Regions from separate parts of the Homo sapiens genome. Here region 1 is linked to region 2. The links come from fine-mapping of genetic effects on gene expression. Tissue or cell type: pancreatic islets. Region 2 holds a variant in brackets; the other region holds the start of a gene. All regions are shown on one strand. Distances are from middle to middle.

Region 1 (8,105 bases), 490 kb after region 2:
ATTTAAGAAAACAGAACAGGGAAAAGCATGAGAATTTCTGGCCTATAAAATACGCATCGATATTACAAATAGGGACAGTTGCCAAAAACAAAGCCTCTGCAATTTTTTTTTTTTTGGCGGGGGTAGGCGGGGGATTTTTCTTGCCTTTAGCTACCCAGATCAAGTGTCTGCACTGTTTAAAATCAATCTTCTGATTCTACGATGTATTTATTGGGAATTCCCTTATCATGAGTTTCCTTTCCTCTGAGCTCCCTCTGAAAGAGCTATTGGTAAAGACCCACCCTCTTATCATTCCATATACTTCACGAGGTATCTCATGTATTCTCTATGGCCTCAATGATTCCTTTTTTTCTCCAAGTCTTTGCATACTATCTACATGCTGAAAGCAGTCCAGATGACCTCTATATGCAATGGTCACCTCAATAACGCTATTTGAATGTCCCATAACAGTCATCTTAAACTTAACACATTTAAAACGAAATCCACCATCTTTCCCATCCAAAACCACTCTTGTGGTCTCTTAGTGAATGGTATTATCATTCATGCCATTGACCAAATCAGAAACCTAGGCATTAGTTTTGCATCCTCTTTGGTTCTTTCATCTCTTTTGACTCCACCCAAACCACCACTCCATCATCCAATCAATCACCAAGTGATGCTGGTAGAATTGTAAATCTGATGTCACTTGTTAAAAAAGAAAAATTAAGGAAAAACCCATCACAGCCGAGTTTCATCTTTTTCTACTTTTTATCTCCTTTCCCTATTCTCTCCTTAGACCTCTAAATTCTACCTATAATGTACTTCTTTCAGTTTTGTGACTATAATTCCTTATTGCTCTGAAGTATTTGCACATGTTATTCCTTCAGCCTCCAAGTGTCTTCCTCCACTCCCAACTCCATTTGACTTGGTTCACTCACTACTCTCTTCCAGGCCATTTACATTCTCTAACTACCCATCTTATTTCCTTGCTAATTCTCTAAGCGCATCTTTCTCTACCTCATGCCTAAAACTCAAAATCCCCTCATTAAAATAAACAGCATCTCACCAACCTCTGCACTTCCAGCTACCTTCTCTTTCTTCTCTTTGCATCCGGCCTGCAAAGTTTTCTGCTTCCACTGCTTCATTAAAAGGTCAAAGATTTCCCAATTGCTAAATGCAGTGGGCTCTTTTCAGTCCCGCTATCTGACTTCAATGTAGCAGGTGATATTTTTGAAACATTCTTTTTCCTTGGCTTCTTTGATAATTGTCTCCCACTGTTTTCATCTTACCTCCCTGAATAGTTCCTTCTGACTTTGAGTCCTTCTTCAGTTCACCCTTAATGTAGGCATTCTCCCAAGACTCTGTACATGGTCTTCTAGTTCTTCAATTCATAATTCCTATTGGGCAATCATAACCAGTTCTGCAACTTCATCAATCACCTGTATGCATGACTCCCAAAACTCTCATCTGTTCATATTTTCCTCTAAGCTCCAGACTCCTACATTCTGCCTATAGAACATCTCTCTTAGATGCCACAAAGGAAACTTTAAGTCACAGGATCTAAGAGGCATTTATTATTCTCCTCAAACTGCTCCCTCTTCTGAATAGCACCTGATCAATTAGCTAAGGCTCTTACACTTGGGAAAAATGCTGCATTCCTCCCTTTCCCCCATGCCTCACAACTATTCTGTAGCTGGATCCTGTCAAATCTCATTCCTTCACACTCTGATCATCTCTTGCCTTCGTATTGTCTTTTTGCTTCCAATCTTGCACCCTTTCTAAATCATCCTCTACAGTGCTTCCAGAATAACACAGAACACACGTCATTCCCTGTTGAAAACACACCGTGGCTGCCTACAGGATGATGTCGGAACTTCTTAGCATAGTAAACATACAGGCCCCTGAATGGTTGCTTACCCTTTGTCCAAATACTCATTCACATCCTATATTCTTGCCTTACTAAAATACTTGACGCTTTCTAAATATACCAAACTATTTCAGACAGTTCCTTCTGTCTTCAATGCTCTTCACTTCTTGCAAGACTTTCCTATCTTCTTAGGCGGGTGCAGTGGCTCATGTCTGTAATCCCAGCACTTTGGGAGGCCGAGGTGAGTTTCTTGAGCCCAGAAGTTCGAAACTAGCCTGGGCAACATGGTGAAACCCCATCTCTACAAAAAAATTTTAAAACATTAGCCAGGTATGGTACGCGCCTATAGTCCGAGCTACTTGAAAGGCTGAGGTAGGAGGATCACTTGAGAAGGGGAGGTCCAGGCTTCACGGAGCCCTGATCATGCCACTGAGCTCCAGCGTGGGCAACAGAGCAAGACCAAAGACTTTCATATCTTCTTTACAAAGCCCTTTCTCATACTCGTAGACAAAACTAACCACTTCATCCTTTGTGAAGGATCCTGATATATGTTGTTATGGTATCTAACTCATTTGATTACATTTATCTTTCCTGATCTGGATTCAAATAGCAATGCAACTATGTAACAGCTGCGTAAAACTGGGCAAAATAACCTACTGAGCTTCTTTCAGCAATGGAAATTATCAAGATAGAGTTGTTATGAAGAAAGAATGAGTGCACTATGTACCTGGCACACAATAGGTGCTTGAAAAAAAAAGGTAGTATTGTTATTACAATTCTGTTATCCTTATGCCACTATGTGCAAGCTTTAAAAAGACTTCCGGCCGGACATGGTGGCTCACGCCTGTAATCCCAGCACTACGGGAGGCCGAGGCGGGCAGATCACCTGAGGTCAAAAGTTCCAGATCAGCCTGGTCAACACGGTGAAACCGCGAGTCTACTAAAATACAAAAAAAAATAGCTGGGCGTGGTGGCGGCTGGCTGTAATCCCAGCTACGCGGGAGGCTGAGGCAGGAGAATTGATTGAAACTGGGAGGCGGAGGTTGCAGTGAGCCGAGATTGCGCCACTACCTTCCAGCCCGGACGACAGTATGACACTCCGTCTCAAAAACAAAAACTAGCCGGGCGTGGTGGCGCGCGCCTGTAGTCCCAGCTACTCGGGAGGCTGACCCAGAAGAATCGCTTGAAACCGAGAGGCGGAAGTTGCAGTGGGCCGAGATCGCGGCACAGCACTCCATCCAGCGTGGGCTACAGGAGCGCAACTCCGTCTCAAAAAAAAAGAGGAAAAAAAAAAAAAAAAAGACCTGGAACAAATGAACTGGAAGGTGCTAGGCAAATACATGATATATTTAAAACTTACTAAATTCTAAAGCGGTAACTAGTTGTCTGAAGGGGAGAGGGAGGAACCAGGGAAGAAAACTGGGTTTAGTGGGGTCAAGGGTTTGTAGGGAGGTCCAACAATTGCCAGTAAGTGTTTAATTTTTTTGTACCTGTAACCTCCATTCCCGAACAACCTTTACCGTCTTATCTACTCCTCTCTGGCAAATGCCTACCCTAAGAATCCGCCACAGCATCACTATCACGCCGAATTAACTGTTGCCTCCTCTTAAGTTCCCGGGGACAATACTTCTGTGAATTCCAGACCAGGGCCGCTATGGATCGCGACTCCCAGCGGGCAGAGACCTACTCCCTCCTACAACCACTACCTGCTACATGACACCTTTGGAAAACCTTGGCTGACTAAATTTAAAAACCACATCACCCAAGGCACACATCTCCTACATCATACACGTCAATCTCCACAGCCTACGTAGGAAAATCCTCAAGGGAACCCCGGCACGAATTCAAGGCCAGACCCACAAGCCAGGTACACACCCACACGCCCACGCCCGCGCGCTGCCGGAGCCCCGGGGCCTGCTGGCCAGCACACCTCCACACCCGCGGCGCGGCCTCCGGGCAACTTACAGGAAGTTCTCCATCGAGATGCGGACGATAGAGCCTTCCACGAAAGGCCCGGACGACTGCAACAGCGGCAGCTGCGGGGCCGAATTCTTCCTCTTGCTCGGGACCTCCGACGAAGGGTCTCTCGGGAGAGCTCTCTTGGAAGGCTGGGGGCTTGGAGTTGACGTCTTCTTGCTCGGAGTCGCCATCCTGGCTTCCTCAGCGTCCCACAGCGACTTCCGTTCCCACCGTCCGGCAGCCCAGGCGCCCAAGCGCCCATCCACCCAGGCGCCCCGCTCCCGCGCGAACTGCCGCGAACTGTTACCGCGCGCTCGCTCCCGCGATCTCGCGCCGCGCCTGCGCAGTTCAGGTCCGGCGACGTCAGCAGGCCCGCCCCGCCCCTCCCGCGCTCCGCCGCGCTGTGCGAGGCCCAGACTGAGGGCGAAACAGCAGGCAGGACTGGGTGGAGACGTTCGGGGACGTGGCAACTGGAGTTTCTTCTCCGTATATTTCGGCATTCAGTTCCTTTTTTTTTTTGTTTTAACTCAGGAAAAAATCTCAATTGCGTTTAGTATTTTGAAAGCCACTTTATTGCTTCCCGAGCCTCAGTCATGTGTGGTGGGAGGCTGCTGTGGGTGGCACCTGGGGCGTCCACGGCCGCCAAGGCGGGAGGACGTCAGGCCCTGCTTGCTCCCACCCCTTCCAGGTGAGAGCTCCCGGGCACGCCCGTCGTTGGCTCTTCGTCCTCTTGGTGTTCTTCCCTGTTGCTTCAAATCAGGTTCCTGTCTCAAAAATCCGAAAAAGAAATCCTCCCAAATGACTCTGTGCCCGACGCTCCGTTAAGGCATCGTGCTAGGCGTTCTCAAACTCGTGAAATGACTACACTGCACAGGTTAACCTCATTGCTACTCTTCCCCTTGCCTCCTAATTCTCTGGTTAAACTTCCGCCCCCGAGGTTTCTAGAAATCCCTGAGCTGGAATGCGCTGCCTTCATTAAGAGGGTGTTCTGCTTCCGTCTGCTCACATTCATCTAGTAAGCCCTCTCGTTAAAGAGGAGGCAGCACACCGAGGCCTGTCTAGAACTTCTTTCATTTAACCAACAGTGAATATCTAATCTACAAGAAACTGGAGCCGTGGCAGTTTAGGAGCCTGCCAAGGTTGCATCCCTGGGAGCTTATTTTCTATTGTGGGAGACAGGAAAAGAACAAGTGAATCAACTGTGAAATTAAATAATTCAAACTTAAAGCTGTTGGAACTTTAAATTATTCTGAGCCTTGCGAAGAATGTGGCGATGGGGCCTGAGTCCCATGGCATACAGCTGCAATGTCTGCCTTGTTTTTTCCTATAATCAGGAAGACCAAACAGAGACAGAGGTAAGACCCCCTCAGATCACTACCCCCTTCATAAATTAATATAGTTATCTTCCTTGGAATGTAGCTATCTATAACTAATCTAATCGCTGTAATTTATGCACTGCTCTTGTATTGAAAATGTACTCCTGCTGAACCTTCTCTGTTTCTGCCTGTGTAAATGAAACCTTAACTTCACTTTGGAACATTGACCCTATTTGTTTGGAGTTGGTGTTTCCAGGTGGCTGTCCTCAAGCTTTGCGTTAGAATAAACTCTATACTTAATGATATTTTCTGAATTTCACTACTTAAGGCTGACACAACAAATGATTAGCATAATGTCAGACTGTGACAGGTGTTAGGAAGAAAACAAAATGAACCTGATGGGTGGGAGGTACGGAAGGCCTCTTAGAGAGGTGGTGGTGTTTAAGATAAACTCTGAAGGACGAGAAGAAACTGTGACGATCTGAGAAAAGAGCACCCCAGGCAAAAGAATTTTGCTGGAACATACCAGTAAGGACAAAAGCTCTGAGGTGGGAAGGCCAGTGTTGCTGCAGAGCAGTGAACAAGGTTGCAGAGCAGAACCTTGTCCATCGTGGAAAAGCCTGAATTTTATTTTTAAAGCAATGGGAAGCCATTGCAAAGTTTTAAGCAGGAGAGGGCCATGTTCTGACTAAAGCTTTTAATTTTTTTATTTGATTTTTTTTATTTGATTTTTTTGAGACAGAGTCTCACCCAGTCGCCCAGGCTGGAGTGCAGTAGTGCCACCTCAGTTCACTGCAAACTCTGCCTCCCTCGTTCAAGCGGTTCTTCTGCCTCAGCCTCCCGAGTAGCTGGGATTACAGGTGCATGCCACCACACCTGGCTAATTTTTGTATTTTTAGTAGAGACGAGGTTTCACCATTTTGGCCAGGCTGGTCTGTAACTCCTGACCTCAAGTGATCCGCCCACCTCGGTGTCCCGAAGTGCTGGCACTACAGGCATGAGCCACTGTGCCTGGCCTTAAAGTTTTTAAATAATAATTCTGGTTGCTGTGTGGAAAATGGATTAGAGGGCACCAAGTGTGGAAGTGGAAGGCCACTTAGAAAGCTATTGCAGTAGATCCCTGATTCCTGACTCCTAGACCAAAGCTCCTTTCCCAGGTCTCTGCTGCTTCCTCTCACACAAGGACTCCGCTCCAGAGAAAATAGAGTAAGTAAAAAGCATGTGAACTTGTCGTAGTTACTGGAAATTTTCTTAAATGCAAATGAAAATGAGAGAGACGGGAAGGAAAAATCATTGAAAAAATTCAGACTGCAGCAGCAGCCTACCTGAAAAGTCACAGCAACAGGCAAAAAATAAAACAACCTTGGGAAAACCTCAGGTTGCACCTGGACAGATAGACAGCTTTAAGCACAGATAAACAAGCACAGGAGTGGGAGAGTCTCGACTTCATACTCATACAATGGGCCCCAGTAAAAACTGTGAGACTTAATAAGTACATTCCTTTCCGTTTAGGCCCACTAAGATACGGAAGCGAGAAGCTTATACAGGGAGGGTTGGGGGATGCCTGCAGCTGCAAGAAAATGTCTGGGAACAGACACAGAAACTTAAGCGACACAAAGCAGCACAGAGCAGCATAAACTAAAAGCCTGCTTATGTGATCAAGGAATTGGGTAAAGGCTGTTAGGAACTCTGCTCTATGCCGATAGCACACCTGGTCCCAACTAAATCTTCAGGCCCTGGGAAGATAAGACACCCCTCCTCACTAGTCCATTTATAAAAACCCTGACGTTTTTACTACAACTTGGCAGTCCAGTCAGACTCCCCTCTCTAATGCAGAGAGCTTCTTTTCTTTCTTTCACTTATTAAACTTTTGCTCCAACCCCACCTTTGTGTCCACGTTCCTTAATTTTCTTGGACGTGAGGACAAAGAACCCAGGGTACTAGTTCAGACAATGAGAAACTGCTACGTTAAGGTGCGTTGGTGAGACTGCAACAAAAATAAAGAATAATTTTTAAACTGTTCAAATGGCGGTGAGTAACGAAAAAACTCAGTGCTCAGGAGGGCACAATACTGTCCTTCCCTGAGTTGCTAGCATGAATTTTTTGAAAAGTAAAGGCTCTGCTTCAAGAGCTGTAGAAAAGTCAGATTGTTTGATGAAGTTACTACATTTAGGGGAATCTACCCTGATGAACAAATAAGAATTATAGACATTAGTAATGGGAGCTGAGGGCAGGGAGCTAGTCATCATTTTTGTACAATGATCAGTCCTTTTTTTTCTTCCCTTTTTTGGCAATCAATAGCAACATTTATTTCCTAGATCCCCCAGGAGAGGGGTAAGGAGCCAAGAAACCCCACATTATAAGACTTGGAGCCTCTGAAGTAGCTGTGTGAATAGCATGATTAAATAATTTCAGATTTTCTGTGTCTTCTTGAGTCAGTTTTAATAGGTTGTGCTTTTCAAGTAATTTGTCCTTTTCATCTAAGTTGTCAAACTTATTACATGAAGTTATGTGTTAATATCCATTAACGTTTGCAGCATCTATAGTGATGCTTCCTCTTTCTCACTTGATACTGGTAAATTGTTCATTTCTTCCTCTCATTTATTAATCTAGTAGAGGTTACGTATGTTTTATTAATCTTTTTAAAGGAACAACTTGATTTTTGCTTTTGTTGACTTTTGATTTCATAATTTCTACTTATCTTCGTAATTAACTTTCTGTTAAAGTTTAATTTGTTCTTTCCCCTCCAGCTTTTTAAAATTTGTTCTTTCCTCCTCAGCTTTTTAAAAATTATTTTTTGAATATATATATATTTGTACATATTAATGGGGTACATGTGCAATTTTGTTACATGCGTATGATATGTAATGATTAAGTTAGGGTATTTATAATGTCTATGTGATGGGTCCCTTTCAAGTCTTCCAGCTATTTTGAAAAATACAATAGATAATTGTTAACTATAGTCACTCTACTGTGCTATCAAA
Region 2 (8,105 bases):
TGGTGAATCTGACAATTATGTGTCTTGTGGTTGCTCTTCTTGAGGAGTATCTTTGTGGTGTTCTCTGTATTTCCTAAATTTGAATGTTGGCCTGTGTGTTCTTAAGAAGCAACAATTTATCTCCACATCCGGGCAAAAATAAGTTAGAAATTTTTAAATCAAAATTACAGTATAACTATAATTTCAAATTTTGAGGGACTACTTATGTACATGGACGGTACCAGATGCCTTGAAAATAAGGTAGACACAAAGTAGGCATTGTTTTCTCCTCTTGCAGAGACAAGGAAAGGAACTGAGGCTAAGAGAGGTGGGGAGATGTACAGAGCCAGGAAGAGCCAAGCTAGGACTGTCTTGCTGCAGACCCCGTGTTTTCTACTCATTAGGCTCCATAGCATAGCACACAAAACAAGGAGGCATTGCATCGTCATAGAGTTTCTCTTTTCTCTTGTATCCTTCAAGTTTCTTTTGATTCCCCTTACAAACTATATGGGGTATAATATTATGAGGCCAGTCTAACCGTTGCCAAGTTTGGCTAAGCTATTTGGTTCTAGAGTTGATGTGATATCTTTCTCATCCCAGCACTTAACTGACTTACATAATAAAGCCTGCACTATGGATGGGCCTCTGGGTGCTGTGGCCTCATGAAAAATATTCCCTGGGCCTGCAATTTCAAGCTAGGTGGGGCAGCCCCTCACGACATCTTCACACAGATACTGCTGTACTTTCTGCTCATTTCATATAGATCTTGAAGTAATTCACTCCTCTGCTTACTCAAAACCTGTCCCCTTTAAAAAAGATAGGTCCTTCTAGAAATCAACCTATAACCTAAGTTCTATCATTGTTTTCAGGTAAAGAATAGAAATTAAAGAGATAAAGACTATCTGCAACATATTCATTGGGGAACAGATGTCACAGATCAGATGTCTCTCTATTATCTTCCTCCTCAAGAGGGGTTTGGTCATAAAGAATATCAAGACCAGGAAAAGGGGACACAGGTGACCATGCACACAGTGAGGCTGATTATGTGCATAGAAACCAAGAGCCTTATGTTCCAGAGGGCAGTGCCAGCTCCTTTTCTGCTGCTGCCTCCTGGAGCTCCTGTCTGTCCTCTGAGCTCCTGCAGAAGCCTTCCTCTATCGCCACTGCCAAACCACCAACCCCAGACTGGGGCAGTACATTTGCTTTTGATACCCTGGAGTGTAGGAGGACCACTTAGACTTGGCATTGTAAGCCCCATGGTTGTGTGGCCCTAAACAAGTCATGGTGATGACAACACCAGCCCTGCTCCTAGTTCACCACCTTCTGCTTCCACACTGGTGAGTCCTATCATTCACTCTACTCCCCTGACAGCGGCCAGACCTCCTAGCGTCCAATCAGTTCATCTTTCCATTTCTTCCCAGTCACACCTGGGAATCATGCCTCCACTCAAAGCCTTGCTGCTCCAAAATCTAAGACTTTAAAATCTACTCCCCACTCCAAAGATAACTGCCCTACCTCCCCCCTCCCACCACTTCATTCATATTGAACCTGAACCTGGATGCCAGGCTTCTCTGTTCACGAGCCTGAGATCAAACGCCTCAAGCAATCTGTGTAAAAACATGTTCAAAATAGTTTTCTTTACCTTGTGCCTTGTTGAGAGTTTGCACTATGTCTTTCCACCCTCCCTGCTCCCATCTGGGTTCCCTCACCTGTCAATTACTCTATTCTATGTGCCTGATGCTTCTCGTACCACTCCCAAAGCTGAGTCATTCAGTCTAATTGGATTAGGCTTTCAATAACACCAGCCAATCCTCGTATTTATCTCTAGTCAATAGGCTCTCCTATTCCCTACAATCATTGTTCTAAATCTTTTATATTCTTTCCAAGTTTCAAACCACAGCCACTTCCTCTTATTCTTTTTATATATGTTAAATACTAATCTTTTGTTGGTTGTGTTACAGATACATTTTCTCAGTTTGGGGCTTGTTTTTTCACTTTTTTTGATGTACTTTGATAAATAGAAATTCTCAAATTTAATGTACAGTCAGGCATTACTTAACAATGGGGATATATCCTGAGAAATGTGTCATTAGGCTATTTCATTGTTGTGTGAACATCATAGTGTATTTCTTTTCTTTTTTTTGAGACAGAGTCTTGCTCTGTCGCCCAGGATGGAGTGCAGTGGTGTGATGTCGGCTCACTGCAACCTCCACCTCCCAAGTTCAAGCAATTCTCCTGCCTCAGCCTCCCAAGTAGCTTTTGGGAGTGCCAACCACCACACTCAGCTAATTTTTGTACTTTTAGTAGAGATGGGGTTTCACCATGTTGGCCAGGCTGGTCTTGAACTCCTGACCTCAGGTGATCTGCCCACCTCGGCCTGCCAAAGTGCTGAGAGTACAGGCATGAGCCACCACTCCCAGCCCATAGAGTGTAATTCTAAAAACCTAGACAACATAGCCTACTACACACCTAGGTTCTATGGTATAGCCTATTTGTCCCTAGGCTACAAATTTGAATGGCATATTACAGTTCTGAATACTGTAGGCAACTGTAACACAATGTTAGGTATTTGTGTATCTAAACATATCTAAAGATAAAAAGATACAATAAAAATACAATATTATAATCTCATGGCACCACTGTCACATACACAATACATCATTGACTGAAACGTCATTATGCAGCCTATGACTGCAGCTAAATGTATCAGCCTTTTTTATGTTTTGTGCTTTTTGCCTCATGTTTAATAAACTCTTCTTTACCAAAATATCAAAAAGATATTCTTCTATATATTCTACTAAAATGTGTCTAGTTTCACCTTCAACATTAAACCTGTAACCCATCCATAACTGATTTTTTTTGTGTATGATATGAAGTGGAGATCCATGTAGATGACTAGCTGACCTTGCGTCATTTATTTAATGGTCCATCCTTATGTCGCATAATGCCAGCTCTTTCATAAAGCAGGTTTCCACCTATACATGAGCCTTTCTGGCTTCCCTACTTGTCTAGTCCTTCCCTGGTGCCCTATTTTTCTAATCAGTGTAACTTTATAATAAGCCCTGATGTATGATAGGGCAAGTCACACTCCTTGTGACACTTCTCCAGAGTTGCCAACTATTTTAGCCCTTTGCTCTTATAGATAAATTTTAAACTCAGCCTTTCAGGTTGCATGTACATGTGTATGCGCGCGCGCGCGCACACACACACACACACACACACACACACACACACACACACACACA[C/TAC]ACACTGTTGAGATGTGGATTGAAACTGCATTGAAATTAAAGATTCATTCTCCTCATGCTCAACAGAAGACTCCTCCTTAAAGGAAATCAAAGGTCATAAATGTAAGCTCCTCTACTTTCTTCTCCTTTATCCCAGTGTGACTATATCTTGAGCCATGCCTTTTTTTTCTATGTAGTATCAGAGGAAGTAGTGCCCCTCTTCTTCTCTACAGTCATTCTCTAAACAGGCAACACATCCCATCACTTTGCATTTCCTCCATAATTTTTTCTCTAGAAAATGTACATTTCTTGAACAGTAACTCTATTACTCCCTCTGCATTGGGTTCTACTTCTGTCTTTTCTACCTTCCTAAAATTTCAATGACATTGTACTTTTCTGCTAGTCCTCCAACTTTTCTGTTTCTCCTCCTCTTTTCCTTACGTTTCTCATTACTTTCATCCATAATGTGGACATTACCTGAAACTTCTTTTTTCTCAGTCCTTTTGTTCTTTGTGTCATTTTTTGAAGAAGTAATTTTAAGTCTCCTATCATGGGAGATTGTGTCAATTTCTCTTTAAAATTCTGTCAAATTTTTGCTTTATGTATTTTGAGATGATGTTGTTAGGCTTATAAGTTTTTAGACTAGCTATATTTCCTGGTGAAATATTTTTCTATCATTATTCAGAGACTTTGTTTATTCCTGACAATGCTTTGTCTTGCATTTCATTTCATCTGATATTAATCCACTTACATCAACTTCTTTTAGTTCGTACTTTCCCAATATAGGACATTTTCATGCTTTTTCTCCTTTTATTTTCAGCTTTTCTGCACCCTATATGTTAGATGAGTTTCTTAAAAATTATATATAGCTTTTGTTTTTAACGTCATATTAGATGCTCTATTTTTAGTGGTAAATTAGTCTAATTGCATGTATTCTGTGCTAATTACCCTGAATACATTTTAAATTTCATTCATTTATTCAGTAAGATAGTCTCAATTGCTAAGTCTCATTTAGGTATTTCCTTATAAGACCTTTTTTTTTTTTCTTGGTAATATCATACATCTCCTGTTGGCTTCACCAACAACCTCATTGGAGATTATTCACAAAACTATTTCTGGCCTTAACCTTGCTCTCTCAATCTCTCCAACCATACTTACAGCTTGCGCTTGGATGTCTCACCTGGTTGTCTCGTCATTACTTCAAGTTCTACATGTCCAGAAACAAAATCAGCCTATCCAACATCCTCCAGTGCTTCCCAGCCCTACATCTCCACAATGTTTCCCCTTCCAATTCTCGTTTCATTTTCTCAGTCTTGAAAGCTTCAGTTCCCCTATCCTCATTGCCACCGCCACCAGCCAATTGTGGCCAAGTTATTCTGAGTTTCTTTCGGCAGTGTCTCTCACATCTGCCTGCTCTACTTCGATTCCAGTGCCATCATCCTCATTCTGAGCCTCAGTTTTCTTCACCAGGGCCATTACTCTGTGTTCCTACCTAGTCCCAGAAAGGAAACCTTGTTGTCTGTCCTCCAAGCTATTCCAAACACTCCTCCAGGCTTGATGCTTGAGGCCCAGGCCTGACTTGTTAACTTATTTGCTCAGATAGTTTCAAGGACTTGCTTTTGCTACTAACAAGTGTCCAAACTATTTAATGTGGCTTTGAGGCCCTCCACAGTCTGAATGCAGTCTGGATGAATCCCCACACTTCAATTACTTCTTTTTACCACCCTGTTTCCCAGCCTATAATTTAGGCTTTCCAAACTCCCATACTTTCTTTCATCTGGGAAAAGATTCTCTTCTGCTGCCATTTCCACTTCCATGATCACATGAAACTGCGAGCATCCAGCTATGACATCTCACAACTGCTTACTCTGATTTTCAACAGAAAAATGCATAGTACAATCTTACAGTACAGCCTAGTAGCCTATGTCTAAGCTGCGTGTTGGTGAAAGCTGTTATATATCGTTGCTTCTGTAGGGACCCTGACACTATTTATGATGTGCGTAACCTCTGCTAGAATTAGTTGGTTATCACAACCCAGATTAAATAGTAATTATTTTAAATGAGATACATGCAGTGACTGTCAAGAAAGAGAAAGGAAGAGAGATTTCAATAATTAGCCATTGAATCTACATCTGGGTCAAATGGACTTTATCCATTATGCTTCTCTTACCAAATGAAATATTCATATGCCAGACTTCTTTTTCCATAAAGGTGAAATGTTAGCTCATATTTAATTATGTTAGAAGATAAAAATTAAATAAAGCACGAATAACTTTATACCAATTTGTTGCCTTCTCCAGGATGACTTCATTTTAGTACTACTTGTTTATGAAATATAGGAAATAATCTGACTTTTATTCTTCTTATCTCAGAACCTAGAGCACATTTCAGTTTTCTGACTTTATTACTACACAGTTTTTGGTAAATTGCTTTAACAATTTTAATAAGCAGGATGTTATTTACTATTTCTTAACTCTGCCCTATAGTTTCCAAAATAAGATAGTTGTCCAATGGCTTATTTTGGATTTGTGCTAGTTATTGAGTATTTATTGGTGCACTCATGGCCTGAATGTAAAAAGAAAAAAAATAGCTTTCTAATCATAATTTAAGTGGTAAAATTACTTTAACGTCTTAATTCCTAGACTATATCTTGGGGGTTTTTGTAATGTACCTCGCAGACTTTATAGTATGGTAACATGGACTTCCTACTTCCCTACAGCTGGTTCTCATTTGCAATAATGATTCTAAAATCAAGAAGCAAACATTGCATACTAGAGTACTAAGTCTGTTTATTCAGTACATCAATTCAGGATACACAAGAATGAAAATAAACCAACTTTTGTCTGGACACAGTGGCTCATGCCCATAGTCCCAGGACATTGGGACTGTATATTAGTAATGGGAGGCTGAGAAGTGTGGATCACTTGAGCCCAGGAGTTTGAGACCAGCCTAGGCAACATAGCAAAACCCTATCTCCACAAAAAAAATACAGAAATGAACTGGTTGTGTTGGCATGCAACCGGAGTTCTAGCTAAATCTCTTAAGCCTGGGAGTTTGGGGCTGCAGTGAGCTGAGATCACACCACTGCACTCCAGCCCAGGGGACAGAGCAAGACCCTGTCTCAAAAAAATAAAAAACAAAATAAACTAATTTTTTCTTAACCCTCGTCAGTCAAGAAGTCTCCAGGGACCATTGTTTTAGTCTGTTCAGGCTGCTATAATGAAATACCATAATCTAGGTAGTTTATAAACAACAGAGATTTATTGTTCACAGTTCTGGAGGCTGGACAGTCCAAGATCAAGACTCTGGCAGATTCAGTATCTGGTTAGGGCCCACTTTCTCGTAAATGGTACATTCTTGCTGCATCTTCATGTGGTGGAGGGGGCAAGCAAGCTTCCTCAGGCCTTTTTCGTAAGGGCACTAATCCCATTCATCAGGGCAAAGACCTCAGGACCTAATCACTTCTCAAAGGCCCCACCTCCTAATACTATCATCTTGGTGATTAAGAGTCAATATGAATTTGAAGGAGACACAAATATTCAAATCCTAGCAATCACATATCCACCAGTTGACATGGAGAAGAAGTACTTTGAGGAGAGTTAGAAGAGACTTGGCATCTACCTTTATTTAGAACATAATAGACATACAACATGAGAAGCTAAACTTAAGGGCTAGGTCACTGTTGTACCCTGGCAGCTATGGCTCTAATACCTCATTAACACCACATTCTCTCTTGGGCAGGGCAGCATAAGGCAAGCAAAAGCCAAGGACTTACAAATTGTGCTAATGGAATAAATGGAAGCAAAGATATTAGGCCATAACTTTTGCAACCTTTTTAGTAAATTTTCTATAGCATTTGAGGCTATCAACTTCCTCTTTCTTCTTAAAGTTACTTTCCTGTGAATTTCATGTTAGACTCTCAATTTTCTGTTTCTTTAACACTTCTGTTACCATTTGTTTTCTTTTTCCATTGTTAGATCCTCTTCTTCCTCACCACTCTAAAAATAAATGTTTAACTATGATCAATTATTGGCTCTTTTCCCTTTCATTCACTATTGTGACTTCAATTACCATTTTAATCAAGATAATTCCCAAATGCACAAATATCTAGCCTTGCTTTCCCCTGGCTCCTGCATTTCCAAGTTCCACTCTCACTCATACCCTCATTCTTCCTTGCCTAGACTATTGCTATTCCCTATGAACTTGGTCGCCTAGTCCAATATCCCCCTAACAATGCATCCTACACACTGCAGGGGTTGGCAAACTTTTCTGTAAAGTGGCAGATAGTAAGTATTTCAAGTTTTGCATACCAGATACAGTCTCTGTCACATACTGTTCTTTGTTTGCTTTCTTGTTTTTGAACAACCCTTTAAAATGTAAAAATCATTCTCAGGTTACTGGTCACAGAAAAACAGACCATAAAACAAATTTGACCCACAGGCAGTGGTTTGCTGGCCCCTTGCCATAGAAATGCCTGATAGCCCTTGTTGAAGCACAGAACCAATCATATCACTCTTTTGAACGTAAAGTAGAATGTTTTGCCTGCAGTTTCAGTCCAAAATTCCATTGCTTCTTTATGGATTCATCACACTAACCAAACAGATCTCCTTACAGTCATTTTTAAATTTTCTATTTCCCTGATATTGTTCAAGCTTAGAGCACTCTCTTTAGTCATATTCAATTACCAAACCCGTGCACATGTCTGCATTTGCATGTGTACACACACACACACACCTGGAATCCATTTGCCTCCTTTATTTGTAACTTTCTTGTGCTTGTCATTTATACTTTATTTATGTATATCTCTAACTTCCCATGCAAGCTCTTAAGAGCAGAATCTGTCTGATTCATTATTCTATGTTTCTCTTGTACTCACTTTTGCCTAGTTGTGCTTAATATCAT

Direction of the effects. Alleles are on the strand shown, and positions count from the first base shown. SD is a standard deviation of normalised expression in the study named.
In carriers of allele C in region 2, the expression in pancreatic islets of the gene that starts at base 4,097 in region 1 tends to be lower than with TAC alone (moderate effect, 0.42 SD a copy in PISA).

What was found. PIP is the estimated chance that this variant, and not a neighbour inherited with it, causes the effect.
Region 1: it holds the start of SMC5, and the variant in region 2 is fine-mapped to the expression of SMC5 in pancreatic islets (PISA, PIP 0.95).

The regions. Positions count from the first base shown.
Region 1 is chr9:70,254,970-70,263,074 of GRCh38, reverse strand. SMC5 (structural maintenance of chromosomes 5) reads right to left here and starts at 4,097. Exons shown (of 25, transcript NM_015110.4): 1 at 3,812-4,097. The coding sequence starts at 3,996. SMC5-DT (SMC5 divergent transcript) reads left to right here and starts at 4,201. Exons shown (of 4, transcript NR_039990.1): 1 at 4,201-4,679; 2 at 5,140-5,160. RefSeq lists enhancers at 3,811-4,010, 4,341-4,530 and a silencer at 4,051-4,270.
Region 2 is chr9:70,747,124-70,755,228 of GRCh38, reverse strand. All of the region lies in intron 8 of TRPM3 (transient receptor potential cation channel subfamily M member 3), which reads left to right. Among named protein-coding and RNA genes, the nearest start is that of MIR204, 59 kb to the left of the region's middle. The variant C/TAC (reference allele first, on the strand shown) is at 3,225.